Linked DNA regions of Homo sapiens: region 1 is linked to region 2. Evidence: fine-mapped expression QTL. Tissue or cell type: subcutaneous fat. Region 2 holds a variant in brackets; the other region holds the start of a gene. All regions are shown on one strand. Distances are from middle to middle.

Region 1 (8,000 bases), 45 kb before region 2:
TCACAAGGACAGAAAAGCAAACACTGCATGTTCTCACTCATAGGTGGGAATTGAACAATGAGATCACTTGGACACAGGGCAGGGAATATCACACACTGGGGCCTGTCAGGGGGTGGGGGGCTGGGGGAGGGATAGCATTAGGAGGAATACCTAATGTAAATGATGAGTTAATGGGTGCAGCAAACCAACATGGCACATGTATACCTATGTATCAAACCTGCATGTTGTGCACATGTACCCTAGAACTTAAAAGTATAACTAAAGAAAAAAGAAAACATCTAGACATTTCAATAAATCCAAGTCATCAGGTCCTGACAAATTATATACCTTGGATTAACAAATGTGATTGCATAACTGCTGATCAGTGACATTTGAGAAATTGCAAGAAAAATGCCATATCATCCGCTAGGTTAAATGCTATTCCTATTTTCAGAAACAGGAAAAAGGCTTATCTCCTAGTCTATAACAGGGTACATTCAGAGCGACTAGAACACCAACAGAAACGTGTATTAAATGTTTATTTTCAGTCAGATGCCATGCCAGGCACTTTTATTATACATTAACTCATTTAATGTGAATCCCTAGATAAAAACAGATTATTCATTCATATACTCCTGGTTGTACTAGAACAAGTCATACCAAATTTACATTTTTTGTTTCTGAAGGGAGATACGGTAGGTAAACAGAAAGTCATTTTACGAAATATTTTGGTATCTACCTAAGAACAAACTGGAGTCCTGGAGCCTGAGTGAAAATACAGTCTTGCTAGAATGTTGCCCTCCATGAGAGCAGATACACCATTCGTCTCATTCACTATGGTATACCTAGAGCTACAACAGTGCCAGGGACCCAGAAAGCACTCATTATTTGCTGAATGAGGGATGGCTCATAGCCGACTTGAGTGTCAATACTCGGAGAACATTGGGTGCTCCGTGTCAATTTATGGCACAGGGTCTCTAGTAAGGCTTTGAGGTTGACCTTAACCTAGTCTAGCTCAGTATTTGAATCAATAACTTGAATGAAGATAACTTATCACATTCAAAGATAACACCAAGGGCAGCTAACTTATTAGAAGGCAGAAGTTAGGATTAAAAAAGATCTCCATGGCTAGGAGAGTAAGGTGAAATTAACAAGATAGAAGTTAAGAGGATAAGAAAGCAAGCCCTGTACTTGGGCTTAAAAATCAACTGTACAAAAGGACAAGGGAAACCTAGATTAAGAACAGTTCATCTACATCAACCCAAAAGTTCTGCAAGCTCAGTAAGAGGCAAAAGTCTGATAGGTTTGTCAAAAAAGCTAATCAATTCTAGGTGGCATTAAGAGCAAGGTCAGGGAGAATGCTGATGTCCTCTTCAATAATATTATCATCTTTGGGGAAGGTACTCAGTTCTGGGAATCATATTGTAAAAGGATCAATAACTCTGTGTGTTACAGGGGAAGGGAGGGCAGGATCTAGGCTAGGAAATGCTCTGGAAACCAGACAAGAGCAACTGAAGTAACAGAGGATGTTTAAACGGAGTAGGGGAGACCTTTTTGGGGTGGAAAGGGAGTGGGGTACAGCACAGTACTATCTTTAAATACGATAAGCTATCTAATGAAAAAGGGACTTGGCTAGGGATGGCAAATGAGTTTCCTTTCATAAGCGAATTCTAATCAACTGGTAGTGACTGCCAGGAACTGGCGCTGAGAAAGATTCTGAGACTAAATGTGGTCACCAGGAAAGAATGCTGTGATCAATTATCCATGTCTGCTATGAATTTGGGGAAGTGCAGTACCTACAGGAGGGCCAAGTATTTGCTGACTCTGGACTACACAGACTTATTCCAAACCGTTCCATAGGCCAAGCCCAGGGCTGCTCATTTGAAGTCACTGGGAAACTAGAAACTAAGGGGTGGGTGGAACACCAACAGTGCCAGAGTGGGAGGATGCTCAGTGAACTTGGAAGTCTCTTAAGTTGTAGACAAATGCAAGATAAAACTCATGGACTCCAGTTCCAAAGACATCCATTTTTGTAGCATGCCTCTTTACAACCTCTATAGAAGAGCTTCTAGAAAAACTGCCCTGTGCTCGCGAGAGCAGTGATTTCAGTTGTTCCATAAACCTGGGGTCATGAGACTAAACTGGTATGGCATGGGACATGTCTATTACAATGAGGAGGGGCAGTAGGAATACTACTGATAGGTCTTTAATGTGACATTTTTCTATTAATATTATAAGCAATTCTCCCTCCCCTAGAAGTTATGCTAGTTTTTGGAGAACATTTTATCTAATTATATTCATGTATTCAACTGTGGGACCAAAGGTGGAGGTGGGAGTAAGGGGGTCTTCAGGAACATTTTTTTTTTTTAAACAGTGGACAAGTGATTCTACTTAACAACATTTACAACATATCAACATCTTTTTAGAACACTGTTTTCATCATTCCACTCAAAAGCCTTTGATGCATCTCAGCTACAGGATCATGTACTAGTATTCAAGATTCCCACATTGCTCCACGTGTCTTTTCTCAGCCCTATTGTTCCACCTCTGCTAGCGTTGACTCGTTTACTTATTTTTTCTCCCAAATTCACTTTGACTATATCGAGTTCAGAGCTACTATCATTTCTCTCTTCATGCCTGGAATGTTCTCCTTTATTCTGTCTGCAACCACTACCCATCCTTTAAAATCCAACTAAGCCTCTCCTCCTTTTCCATTGTTTCCAACAAAAACTTACAGGTTCTCCACCTCCTATGAAGTCCTGTCACTCTTACTGCCTCTTAAATACTTTAAGTTTTTCACAGCCAGAGATCAAAACTCATCGTACTCATCTTCAATGCTGTACACAAAGCTGACATCCAATTCTGTCCTCACAGGACTTAGATACCATATAAGGCTTATATTCCCAGCACACAACTCTGGAGTCAGGCTAGATTCCTCACTGCTCCCAAGAAGGTCGTGGCTTTTTTTTTTCTTTTAATGATTCCTTTGCTCATTTTTCCCCTTCCTGTGATGTTCTCCTTTTTGCTCACCACCCGAATCCTACCCATCAAGGCCCCGATAAAGACACACTTTTTCCACAGAGATGATCTGGATCACTTCCATCTTCAACCACCTCCCCTTTAAACTCTTTATCCAGTCTACAATGTATCTTAGTTCTTGTTCAATTCTCTGGCTGTAACATTTTCATTATCGCTTCTGAGAGGTTTGGTTCCTTTCCTTTCTAATTACATTTAAGCATCATGAGGACTGGCTCACCTTTACCTCACAGCACACAATGGTTGGTACTCTAAAACGTTTAGCTCTGTGGATCTCAACCCGGAGCGATCTTGCTTCCAAGAGGACATCTGGCAATATCTGGAGACATCTTTGGTTGTCACACTTGGGGGAGAAGGTGATACTGACAAAATAGAGAGCAAGGATACAGCTAAACCTACAATGCACAGGACAGCCTCCCAAAACAAAGAATCTTCCGGCTCCAAAAGGCAACAGTGCAGCCGTTAAGAAACCCTGGGTTAGCTGAATGACCCAGTGAACCGCGAAACCACAGCCCCCGAGAGGGCGGACGTCTGCAGGTGGAAGGGCTGCGCGGATGAGCCAGCGGAGGGCTGGCAGGTCCGGCCCGGCCACCCCGGGGAGGGGTGGAGGTACAGGACCAACATCCGCGTCACGCAGGGGCTACGAAGTCCTCCAGGGACTCAAAACACCCGCCCCCCGCCGCACTTGCTCCATTCCCTACCTGCAGTGGGAGGCCGACAACGGAAACGCAATGTCAGTTTCCGCGGAAGAGACCCGCGCCCCGAACCTGTAGCCAGAACGCCGAAGCAGTTCTCGCGATACCCTGGGATGTGCTCTCGCGATACGTAGGCGGAGCTTCCGGCCGGTGCTGGGCAACCAAGCTCATGCGCCGTAGCTCTTCAGCTCGGGAAGGCTATATTTAGCAGGTTTCCGGAAGTTGCCGGACTGGCTGTGAGGCGGTCCTGCCTCGCTGCCTTCAGTCCCTAGTGTCTGGGTCCCCGCCCTCCAGCCGCCTTTGAGTCGTGCCTGGGTCCTCGCCCTTGCCTCAGAACCGCGAAGAAAGGAAGCTCGCGTGTTTGCTAGAAAACCTAGTTGGGAGTGCGAGGCAGAGAACGTTCAGCACCTTTGTTCCTCCCGAACCCTCGGGACAGAGGCAGGGTTCTGAGGGCAGGGATTCCCCCTCGTCTTGGCCCCACCGCCCGGGCTGGGCACTAAACTCGGGCCGCGGCGGGGCGAGCGAGGCGGGCTCCGGAGGGAGCTGACGCCTGATGATGGCGCAGGTAGACACACCTGCCCCTTCTCGGGCGGAAATAAAGTCTTGTTTTGTGTTCGTTAAACTTTCGCCGCTAGGCCTCTTATGGCTTCCCCGGAGGCCACTGGTCTGTTTTCAGACGTTCACGTTCCCTCTGCCCCGCAGGTAACCTATAACCATTTTGTCTTTTAGTCCAACATGTTTACCGTGGCTGATGTGTTGAGTCAAGATGAACTGCGCAAAAAGCTATACCAGACGTTTAAGGATCGGGGTATACTGGATACACTCAAGGTATCGGATTTAGGCGTATCTGTGTCAGCTTTTACAAGTGTAACCTGTAACAGGTAGTTCAAATTCAATCAAGGTTTAGGTTTTAATAATCGTATGATACATAGATTGTATTGGTGAATTACATTTTTATATTCCCGAATAACTCTGTATCCTGAAACATTACAGTCTCTTGAAAATGTTTGAGAAAATGTTGAGTTTGAGTCGTCTTAAAGGAGCATATTCAAATAATTAATTGAACTGACAATAAGATAGGAGAAGGAAATATTTGTATAATGAACACAGTAAGATTAGGCTTGTTTTATAAATATGGCTTATAGGTTCCTAAATTAATAAGTGGGTTTGTAATACATTTGGATGAAGGACATTGACACCATATAGAAAATACTAGTGTACTGCTTAATAATAGTTTGGGAAATGAAAAATTTTATCTTTAAACTATATTGAAATGTATGAATGTTTAGTTTGGGCAGAAAATACCTATTAGTATGCTTTATATTTGGATTAACAGCCAGGAGTAGGATTAGCTCAACGTGTTTTCATTGAAATATGCATTTCAAAAGCATATTTTACGTTTAAAATATGTAGCTATATCCTGTGTATGTATCCTTTTTTAATTTAAATTATATGGTGAGCATTTCCCTGTTTCCTTAAAAGTTTTTTGAAATCTTCATTTTCAGTGGCAACAGGCTTATCTTTGGATATTTTTGTAATGTATATAGCAGTCCCCTGTTGTTGAATATTTTGGTTATATTCTCCAACAGTCCACAGAGGTGTGATGAAGTGGCAGAATTTTTTCCTATACTTAATATCCCAATCGTAAGCTGCTGAAATGGGCTTCTAGGGAAGTGAAGTTATGAGTCTGCAAGTGGATCTGGCTAACCACCCGTTTCATTTGGAAGCTGGGGAAAGAAAGCTTTTTCTAGAACCCACTGGACTGCTTGTCTCACGGGGTAAGACAAAGTGTGCAGGGGAAGGTTTCTAACTTCTGGCCATGGATCTAGAACCATTATGGAAATAGAAGGAAGGTTTCCAATGAATGTAGCTCATCTGTGTATATCTCTAATGAAACAGTCCTGCTGAAATTTCTTTCCCTTGTGTTTCTTTTTTATTTTTGTTTTTATTTTATGCTAGACACAACTTCGAAACCAGCTAATTCATGAGTTGATGCACCCTGTATTGAGTGGAGAACTGCAGCCTCGGTCCATTTCAGTAGAAGGGAGCTCCCTCTTAATAGGCGCCTCTAACTCTTTAGTGGCAGATCACTTACAAAGATGTGGCTATGAATATTCACTTTCTGTTTTCTTTCCAGAAAGTGGTTTGGCAAAAGAAAAGGTAAAGTCTTTCCTTTTCTGTTTCTGAAGTTTTTATTAACAGGTTCTTCCTCTGCTGACAGTAAAGTGCTGTATGATAGCTAAGTGCTCCTCGACTAGGTCCATTTCTGTTTCCTCTTTGAATTCACATTGTACCTGCACATAATATATTTGTTATATAACAAGTGGGTACTAAATTTGAAATTAATTTCTTGGCGTCTCATTTAGTCTCACATAAAACAGTGATGTATAGAATCTCTAAATGTTTCAGACCTATAATTGATCTATCTATCCTCTATCTTGTCTAATAAGACTCTGCCAATCTGCTGAATGTCTGCTGTAAGCTTGGCACTGTGATAGGCACACTGCAGATGTTTTGTGTGTTACGGATGAGGAACCAGACTCTGGAGAGGTGAATCAATTTGCCCAACATCAAGTAACTTTTAAGTGACAATGCAGGGTGGTAAATCTAGATCTCTAACATGAGCTCTTTTTTTCCTGCACTAGTTTCTTCAGATGTTTCTCTTTGTAATTAGATAAGTGAGAAATACGTAATTTAAAAAATCTGTAAAGTTCTCAAATATTAAAAACACTTGTTTTTTTTTTTTACTACTTTTCTAATTATTTTAACTATATTTCTTCACCATTACTGTTGAACATTAGTACTACTTTATTATTTTAAAGGCAGATACAGCAGACTTTCCCTGTGGATATGTGCGTGTTTTTTTTTTTTTAATAGACTTTATTTTTTCAGAGCAGTTTTGGGTTCACAGCAAAGTTAAGTGGGAAGTACAGAGAATTCCCATATACCTGCTGCCCCTACACACTCATAGCCTCCCCCACTGTCAACATCTTGCATCAAGGTGGTACATTTGCTACAATCTATAAGCCTACCCTGACATGTCATTATCACCCAGAGGCCATAGTTTACAGTGAAGGTTGCAGTGAGCCGAGATCATGCCACTGCACTCCAGCCTGGGTGACAGAGCGAGACTGTCTCAAAAATAAAATAAATTTCACTCTTGGTGGTGTTCATATGTTTTTACTTTCTTTGTGTTTTCTGTAATTATCCAAAAGTTTCATATTCCAAAGTTTTAGTGACACAAGCTTAGTACAGTATTTGAATGAAAACTTAAATAATTTGCATTTCTTCATAAGCAACCAAATTTTATTTGTCAGCATTAGGAATTTATTTATTAATTTATGTTTTTGAGACAGAGTCTTGCTCTGTTACCCAGTCTGGAGTGCAATGGCGCAGTCTTGGCTCACTGCAACCTCTGCCTCCTGTGTTCAAGCAATTCTCCTGCCTCAGCCTCCCAAGTAGCTGGGATTACAGGTGCCCACCACTACACCTGGCTAACTTTTTTATTTTTAGTAGAGAGGAGGTTTCACCATGTTGGCCAGGCTGGTCTCGAATCCTGACCCCAGGTGATCTGCCCACCTCAATCTCCCAAAGAGCTGGGATAACAAGCATGAGCCCTCGTGTCTGGCCTGGAATTCATTTTTGATACATCATTCTCTAACTTTCTAATCACTTTATACTTTTACTTATTGTGTAATAGTCAATAATACAATTATATAGCAGGAATTAATCCTATTCATACAACTTAACGGTTTCTACTAATGTAAAATGCCCATGCAGAATATTTACTTTAAAGGAAAACCAATTGAAAACAAATATCAGTGTTCTCAGAGCAGACATAGTGAATGGTATATACTGTAGTAGAAATATATTTTAATAGCTACCCAAAATGTCTGTTAAACAATATTTTAAGTACACTTTAATTACGGTTTTAAGGACAGTAAAAATCTATTTACATTTTTAAACAATGAATACTTTTTAAAAAATTGTAATTGAATGACCCAGGAACTCAGTCATGTAGTCATTGGTTCATCAGATATTTCAGTGTCATCTGTAAGGCATTAAACATTTAGGCATATCATCTTTGATGTGAAGTACTTAGAAGTTAATTAGATGATAAAGATATTTTATCCTTTTGACCTTGATATGTTTATAGTAATTTATTTAACAGTGTAAGAAAGAGCTTGAAATTTGCTTTATTAGCATAGTTATAATCTTATTTAATCTGAAGGATGTTTCTTAATTTCATATTCAGAAACATATCCTAATTTATCATTTAAACACTGATAT
Region 2 (8,221 bases):
TAGAGCTATTGGCCATGAATTCAATATTAAGGAATCAACAATATATATTAAATACGGTGTATTTACACAGAAACACACGAAACAAGCTTATGTGTTGATAGGTTGCTGAAAATGATGTGACCAGAGGCTCACAGAAACCTAGCCATGTATTTCCCCTAGGAGCAGTGGTCCAGCATTCGCTAATTCATTGCTTGAGGTGACTTTATGGAACACAGCTACCCTGTATGAGTGACTATATAAATGTATGTATATGTGCATATCTCCACTTGTAAATTAATATCCCTTGGCAAAGAAATGGGTAATGCCTCACGTGAGCATTGCATCTGTCTGCGACTGAAGTCATGAAGCTAAGTGCTCAGTGCAACAAGGTAATATGCTAGGCCTAGTTGATAGGTGTTGATACCCTCTTTTCTTTCCAGAGTCCAAATTACATCACCTACAATCAGTGCCAAGGCAACCAACTAATACTTTCTGTAAACTACATGTGGTAAGTTAACACAGGCGCCAGTTAACCAAGGTTGAGTGCCAGAATCATTGGCTTCAATAGGCTGGTAAAAGCTGGAAGGGAAATCTGTCATTTAGAAGCTGGAGGGAGGAGGCTAGACTAGGGTGGTCTTGGGGCCATTACTCACCAGGGCAATGACGGTGGCACCAGCTCCTGCACAGGCCACAATGAACAGGTGATAGGACATGTAGAACTACAAAAGAACAGGGCATCAACATAAGCATTTGATGTTAAATGAAATGGCCTACACTCATTGTGGGGTGCTGCTTCATCTGTCTCCTTTGCAGCTCTTCTCTGCAAGACTGGGCACAGGCCTGCCTTCTCTTCATGCTCTGGCCTCATGGTGGAATCACCCGAGGAGCTTTAAAAACTTTCTGATGCCCAGACTGCCCCCCAAATCGATTAAATCTGAATACCTAAGGGCTGGGCCTCAGCCATCAGTATAACATAGTGCTGCCTTGATGGCTGTAACATGCAGCCACGGTGGGGAGCCCTGCTTCAAGCCACTGCATATTATGGATATACAAATTGACAAGTCAGATAGGGTAGGAGCTGATTATTTCTGTAACTCACTGCTTCTTAAAAGCTTGCCAGGATTTTCTTAAATATACAAGCACCTACGAATGCATTTAAGAATTTTCCTTTATAAACAGTTACAAGCCAATGACTGAAGAATGTTCTAGGGCTGAGACAATTTAAACCAAATTGTTAGGACACACTCCCTAGTAAGGACGAATGAGAATTAGAGAAGTAGCAAGTCATTCCAGAAATATAAATGATTAACTGTGGCCTCATTTATTAAAAGTTGGGTATATACACAAATTCCTCTATGAAATAGAGGGACTCCTCTATGAAAATTAACTTACATCCGTTCTGTGACAGGTGTTCTACTTTGAAAATCTTTCAAAGTAGAAAGAGTAGAAGTAGAAGAGGTGAGAGAAGAATCTAGATATATTATTAGATTTCTAGGTTTGGGATCACCTCTAAATTATTGCCCAAAGGAAAAGCCCTCCACTTCTTAAGGATTCTCACCAAATGTGTTGGACCATATGAAGTGACCATTTTTGTAGGTCAAAAATGGCTGAATAGTGATGGTTACATATAGCTCTATCTTAAAGATTCTAAACAAGGAGCTTTCCTTAATGGCATTTTAACCATCTCTCTCGCTCTTTCTACAGCTGGGAGAACCCTTTTTTCTCAGCCTAATACTCAAGGGTTATTCTGAACTGTGATGAGTTTACCTCGTTTGTGTTGCAGATGTTCTCCAGGGCAGAGCCACATATTTTTCCGGGGAAAGCATTCCAAGGAATGATACCTGTAAAATGAACCCCAATAGGATGTTAGTACAAACTATAGCGCCTCATGTTCTTAACAGACCCCACCACTTCGGATGCCAGTTACAGTGTAATTGTAGGCTATGTTCTTCATTAAGAATTGATGGATCTGCTGTCTGCAGAACAAGCATTTTGGAATAAATAGCCCCATTTGAACAATAGGCCAAAAGCAAAGCCAACTAGTCCATAAGAGATTTAAACAGCCTGATATTTTTTTCCCCTACAAATTGTGCTTTATTCAGTGAGGGTTCACATTTGGAAGTTCATATTTGTAAACATTAATTTTCAAAGCCAGGCTTTCCCTATAGTTACTGCAGGACAACCCCCTCATAAAGCATTTTATCACATTGAGGTCAAAATACATTTCCTCATGAATGCTGTGGTCTGTGGCCTTGCTGTCCAAGCTCTGTTACTGGTCTGCCAGGAGTTAAGTTCCAAAATTGCAAGTATACACTCAAACTTTCATGGCAATTTGACGGAGTAATTTATGTTTGTGGGAATCCAATAAAAAACTCTGGATTTGTACTTTGTCTTTGTTTTTATATTCATTTTTATTATGTCTTATAAACGTATTAGAAAATATTTTTGGACTGAAAATCAAATTGGTTTGTTTTTTTTTTTTTTTGAGACAGTCTTGCTCTGTCGCCCAGGCTGGAGTGGAGTGCTGCAATATTGGCTCACTGCAGCCTCCACCTCCCGGGTTCAAGCAGTTCTCTGCCTCAGCCTCCCAACTAGCTGGGATTACAGGTGCCTGCCGCCATGCCCAGCTAAGTTTTGTATTTTTAGTAGAGACGGGGTTTCACCATCTTAGCCAGGCTGGTCTTTGAACTCCCGACCTCGTGATCCACCCGCCTCAGCCTCCCAAAGTGCTGGGATTACAGGCATGAGCCATCGTGCGTGGCCGGAAATTTTTTAAAAAGAAAAAACACTACTGTCCTTTACCCCAGAGGGTGGGACAAGCAGAGTCTATGATTTCTCTCTCACTTAAACCCTGAGGCTCCTCTGCAATGACAGTTGTCCAGTGGGCTGCTGCTTTTTTTCCCCTTTAATGCATAAGTTTGTGCTTAAATATTAAACACTCCTAGGAGGTTAAGGAAAGGAGTATTAGAAGAAAAAAAATCCTTATTCCTTTCATCCTTGACACGGGCCAAGAGTACATCTTTATACTTCAGAAGCATGGGAAATTACCCCAAATTATCAGTGAAACCAGTAACTATAACAATAAATAGGCAAATATAGAGGATTTAAAAAGATGATTGCTGATTACCAAAAATTTGTGGCAAAACACTTACTTTTAAGGAATAGGAGAATGATATACATTTAGATATTCATTTACAAATAACTTTAACAGCCAACTTTAGGCTCCGTTTTTAGCTCTATCATAAAGAACAGTGTTGTTCAGCCTTGGTCTTTGTGAGAAGAGGTTAGTCTGATAGGTAGTTTCAAGCAAATTTAGTATTATGTTGTAAGGTAAGATGTTGAGACTAAGCCACATGAGAAAAACAGCAAAAATGAAATAGTCATCTCTCTTCAGAAAAGCTCTGGAAGGACAGTTATTTCCTCTTCAATTCTGATGAAAGCTATTCCCCCCCACCCCCGGTTGTTTCTGCCAAGAAAAGATTTCCTACCATGGTGGCTGGAAGCAGTAATTAGACTCCTCCCTCAGGATGCTGCCCTCTTACTCAGCTGCCCTCTCTTA[C/A]TCAGCAGCGAAGTCAAGTCCCAAATTAACTGACAGGAGGAGCCAGTGGTCTCTTCTGGGGTTTGTCACAATGAACCAACCTTAGATCCCCATTGTAAGGATCTCACTCATTAGAAAATGTTTGAACTGGTTTCTAACAGCTGATAATGATTTATAGAGTATGTTCTGATGACTTTAAAATATGGCTGGATCTAATGTTGTATTTTTCAATACAGATGAAGTTTAAGCAGTTGGTCATTTTAAAAAGACCAGATTTGAGGAGTTGGATGTGCAAATTAATTGAATTATACAATGTGTGCAATATTATTTTGAATGGAAAGTTGGATGTTATAAAACTGAAAATAAAGAAAAAATACAATCTTTTTGTAGCGGAGATCCAGAAGTCTTTTTTGATTGAACTGCATTATAAAGTAGTTTCATATTAAGAAAAGCTTCTTTCACTACACACTTAACATGAAAATATAACGAAATTTTGATACCTAGCAAGCTAAAAGCCTCCCTGAAGTTTCCACCCAGAAAATAGCATATTGAAGGGAAAAGTATAAAATTACTCTAATAGAAGGGATGAAACAGATCATGACAATTAAAAGGATGCGCATGTAATAATTAGGTCCAGACATATGCACGAGAGGATAATGAAATAACTGGGGGAGGGGTGAATTAGAAGGAAGTACCGTATTGTCGGATATCCACACAGATCTGCTCCACACCCGTGGTCCCGTTGGTCTGCGGTGACTTGATGACTTCACAAGTTGACCATATGTTGTAGAACATAAACACGGGCACCGCTGAGAAACCAAACACACCCAGCCAGGCCACTCCAAGCACATAGGTGAGGAAAACGAACTAGGCCAAAACAAGAGGAAGGACAATCATCACTGAAACAGGTAGATGTGTGTCCCCTAAGTGGAAGGATTGTGCATTTTCAGGCCCAATACTGACCTGTGGAACACATTGTGGGGACCCTCGCCCCGGCATTGGTAGCAAGAAGGAAAAGCCAGCACGGGAGCAGGGGAAGTAAGAGCCAGCCACATTCCCCAGAGCTAGAGGATCTAGAATTGGAGTGCCCGAAGCAATGTCAGGGCCTTTCGGGTCACTCTTAACTAACAAGGACAGGAGACCCCAAGAGGTGATCTCACTCATCCAAGGTCACAGAGCTAATCAGTGGCAGCCTCTCAAGAGGTGCTCTTTCTAAATAGCCGTTCTGAAAATGCAGAACATGCTACTTAACATGGGATAGATTCTGGATGTATTCCATATACCACTGAATTATAACTTCATATTAATTTCTCAAAAGTTACCTTTATTTTTCGTAACAGGTTGGCTCACAGAGAATAGCAATTGCCACAAGAAGCCCTCTCAAAAAGAACTTTGCTAGTTTCCTGATTCTGCAAAATTACCAAAAGTTTCAAATAATCACGAATACAAGCTTAATGCTCGATCTATAAAATTCTCATTTTCCTCTACTTTTCTTTTGTCTCTAAGATTCACAGCAGCTTTGCAAGCAAAGCAACGGCTTAGGGAAAAAGCTTCAGGTGTTCACCCACACACTGTCATGGGCAATCCAGGAAGAATAGAATCCCGTTGCTTGGCTTTCCTCTGCCTTGACCACTTTTCAGAGAGCTTTGTGAGGCGGCCTCAAAAACGTGGTATTTGTGTTCTCAGAAGGCGCGCCCACAGAGGGTGTGGAGTGCTAGTTTGGCTTTTCTATTTTGAAGCTGATGGTGGAGACCTGATGGTCACCCCTAACTTTCTGTGCTGCAGGAGATACCTGGGCGGTTGGAGGCCACCTCCTGATGGTCACAATGCCAGGAAACTGCAGAAACGAGACACTTTCCCTTGCACTGCAAGGAAGCATTTGCATCTCCAAAAATATTCAGAGAAGCAGATTTCAGCAGTTCCACCTCCCACTTCCTCCCACTGCTGCTCCAGACTAGGTTTCTTTCCCTTCAAAAGAAAACAGGACCTGAGCAGGAGGGAGCTGGTGGTTCTTGGCTTCAGTGAGCCTTCCCTTCTGTCAGAGGCCAGGACTCCAGAGGGAAGGCCACTGTCCCCCTCCCAGAGGTCCCCGCTGCGAGCTGGCCCTGTCATGGAGGCCTCTAGCGTCCAGAGCTGCTTCCTCAGTGAGTTCCTGGGCACAAACCTCCCACACAGGACTACGAAAGAAAAATCTCCAGACCCCCAAATCACTAAGCCAAAGGGAAAAGTCAAGCTGGGAACTGCGACAGGCAAATCCCCCATTCTATTCCTAAACAAGATAGCACAAAGATAAAGCTACATACCTCCCTCACAATTTGCCCACAAGGAAATTCCTCGTGGACAAAGGACAGAGCTCAAAGTCATCCCTCTGAGGCTCATGTGAGACAAATGCATATCTGATTGCTTCCTCTGCCCTGTCTTTTCACCAAGCCAGACCAGGCATAAGTGACTATTCCTCTACCCTCCTCTCCCATGTGAATTGTATATTCAATGAAAGGCTAATCAGAGACCCAAAAGAATGCAACCAGTTGTCTCTCACCTACTTGTGACCTGGAAGCCCCCTCCCTGCTTCGAGTTGTCCCCACCTTTCTGGACGGAACCAATGTACATCTTACATTCATTGATAAATGTCTCACGTCTCCCTAAAATGTATAAAACCAAGCTGTGCCCTGACCACCTTGGGCCCATGTTGTCCGGACCTCCTGAGGCTGTGTCATGGGTGCATCCTTAACTTTGGCAAAATAAACTTTCTAAATTGGCTGATACCTGTTTCAGATACTTTTGGGTTCACAGGACTGAGGAGACAAAGGCCTTTGGTGATGGAGTGGCAGCTTTGCTTCCCTAGCGGGCAGATCTCATCCACCTTCTCCACCTCACATGACTTTCTGTCCTGTTTCTGTCCCCAGCATCCTCAGCCCTGCCCCGTCACCTGCATCTTCCTCACACCCTCCAAGGCAGGTCAGCATTGTGATCTGTTAAGCGTATGGATGAAACGGAAGCACATGAGGTGCCAGTGGCCAGAGATGCAGACAGCGCATGAATGACTGGCAATGAAATCAAGCAAGATGGTCAAGCTCCTCTCCAGTCTAAGGGGGCTTTCGACTTTCTCCAACAAAATCTGACATAAGAGCTAAAAGCGGGCCATGCTAGGTGGGCTGTGGATCCCTCACAGTGTCCCCATCTCTAGGTGAAGTGCCACTAGCTCAAGTACAAACAAGCTCCTCTCCTCTCCACCATGTACTGTGTCCTGACCAATGCTCAAAGGATCCAAATATGTTAAACATCAGGCAGTGGATGACTTAATGCTGTGCCCTGGTGGAAACTAGACCTCTATTTTTGAAACTTGATGGGTAGAAGTGAGGGGGAAAGCTGTCATTTTAAAGCTGTGAGGAGATGTTTTTGGTTTTTTTTTCCTTTGGAGGAGGATTCCCACTATTTGTGGCTATTTTCCCTCTGCTTTCCACAGGCATTTTATTTAACAGCTGCCTCCTTCCCCTACAAAAGTAACCATTCCCCTGACTTGTACAGGAGGCTGAGGCAGGAGAATCGCTTGAACCCGGGAGGCAGAGGTTGCAGTTAGTGGAGATCGCGACACTGCCCTCCCCAGCCTTGGAGACAGAGTGATGCTCCGTCTCAAAAAAAAAAAAAAAAGAAAAAAAAAAAAATTCTTGGCTCTTGAGCTGTACAAAAACAGGTAGTAGGTCAAATTTGGCCCACAGCCCCTAGTTTGCTAACCCCTGTCTTAGACTATAAGCTGCTTGAGAAAGCAGCCTGTGTTTTAATCTTTGCACCTCTAGTGGCTAGCAAAGCCCAGCTAGGCGCTCTGTACAGCAGGTACTGGTAAGTATTTACAGAAGGATCAGGACGATTTTCCATGGTTCATGTATGTCTTTATGGCTATGATCCATATTTAAAGACAACCAAAGGGGAGCACTGAGACCACATGAAAGTTACCTCCTTCTATAGTGGGAACTTGGCATTTGAAAAATCTTCAGCACCCTTTTCACCTTTACACTGATGAAAACATTTGATTTATTTCTGCCAGCCATAGACTTTAGTTTACTATCAATAGCATGTTGAAGGTTTTTATAGTCCTAACTCTAAATTGGTAAAGCCAATATTTGTGTCATGGACCCTCCATTCACGCTCGATACCTGGTAGCTTTTGCCAAATACAAGGAAATACATCAAGGCATGGCTCTGGTTGTATATCAAACAATCAGTTATCAGAGGTTCAACTCACCATTCCACTGATGCATCGGCCACAAGCGGTTGTTTTAAACTCACCGTGCAGTTCTTTCACTGCACTTGTGGTGTAAAAGCCTTCTGCCAACAGAATGATCCCATACAAGAAGAAAAAGGACGCAATTCCATAGATGACATACTGCATCAGTTGTATCCTACAAAGAGAAGAAGAGATCCTGAACCATTAAATTCACTGCCTGGTAGTGACTACGTTTCTGGACGCTGGAGAGAGGACATGAGGGGGATGTTCCTGTGAGTGCGTCACTCGCCCCACTGATGGCTTTGATGGACTTGTGGGGCATCCTGGGCGGCATCCCTGCCCATGTCCCAGCAACCTGGGCCTTCCTTCCAAGGTGGGAATGATGTTTCCTTTGCTCAGGGCAGCATCCAGTTGTAATCTTTTAATCCTTACCTGAGTCCTGGGCGGCAAGGGTTAGAATCCTCATTTTGCACATAAGTA

Direction of the effects. Positions count from the first base shown, and alleles are read on the strand shown. Sizes are in standard deviations (SD) of each study's normalised expression.
As copies of C replace A in region 2, the expression in subcutaneous fat of the gene that starts at base 3,940 in region 1 goes down (small effect, 0.27 SD a copy in GTEx).

What was found. PIP is the estimated chance that this variant, and not a neighbour inherited with it, causes the effect.
Region 1: OFD1 starts here. The variant in region 2 is fine-mapped to the expression of OFD1 in subcutaneous fat (GTEx, PIP above 0.99).

Annotation. Positions count from the first base shown.
Region 1 is chrX:13,730,809-13,738,808 of GRCh38, forward strand. OFD1 (OFD1 centriole and centriolar satellite protein) reads left to right here and starts at 3,940. Exons shown (of 23, transcript NM_003611.3): 1 at 3,940-4,275; 2 at 4,440-4,538; 3 at 5,670-5,870. The coding sequence starts at 4,264. TRAPPC2 (trafficking protein particle complex subunit 2) reads right to left here and starts at 3,812. Exons shown (of 6, transcript NM_001011658.4): 1 at 3,717-3,812; 2 at 3,236-3,377. RefSeq lists enhancers at 3,314-4,513, 4,282-4,853.
Region 2 is chrX:13,775,606-13,783,826 of GRCh38, forward strand. GPM6B (glycoprotein M6B) reads right to left here. Exons shown (of 8, transcript NM_001001995.3): 4 at 7,760-7,916; 5 at 4,213-4,384; 6 at 1,747-1,820; 7 at 633-698. Among named protein-coding and RNA genes, the nearest start is that of GPM6B, 37 kb to the right of the region's middle. The variant C/A (reference allele first, on the strand shown) is at 3,539.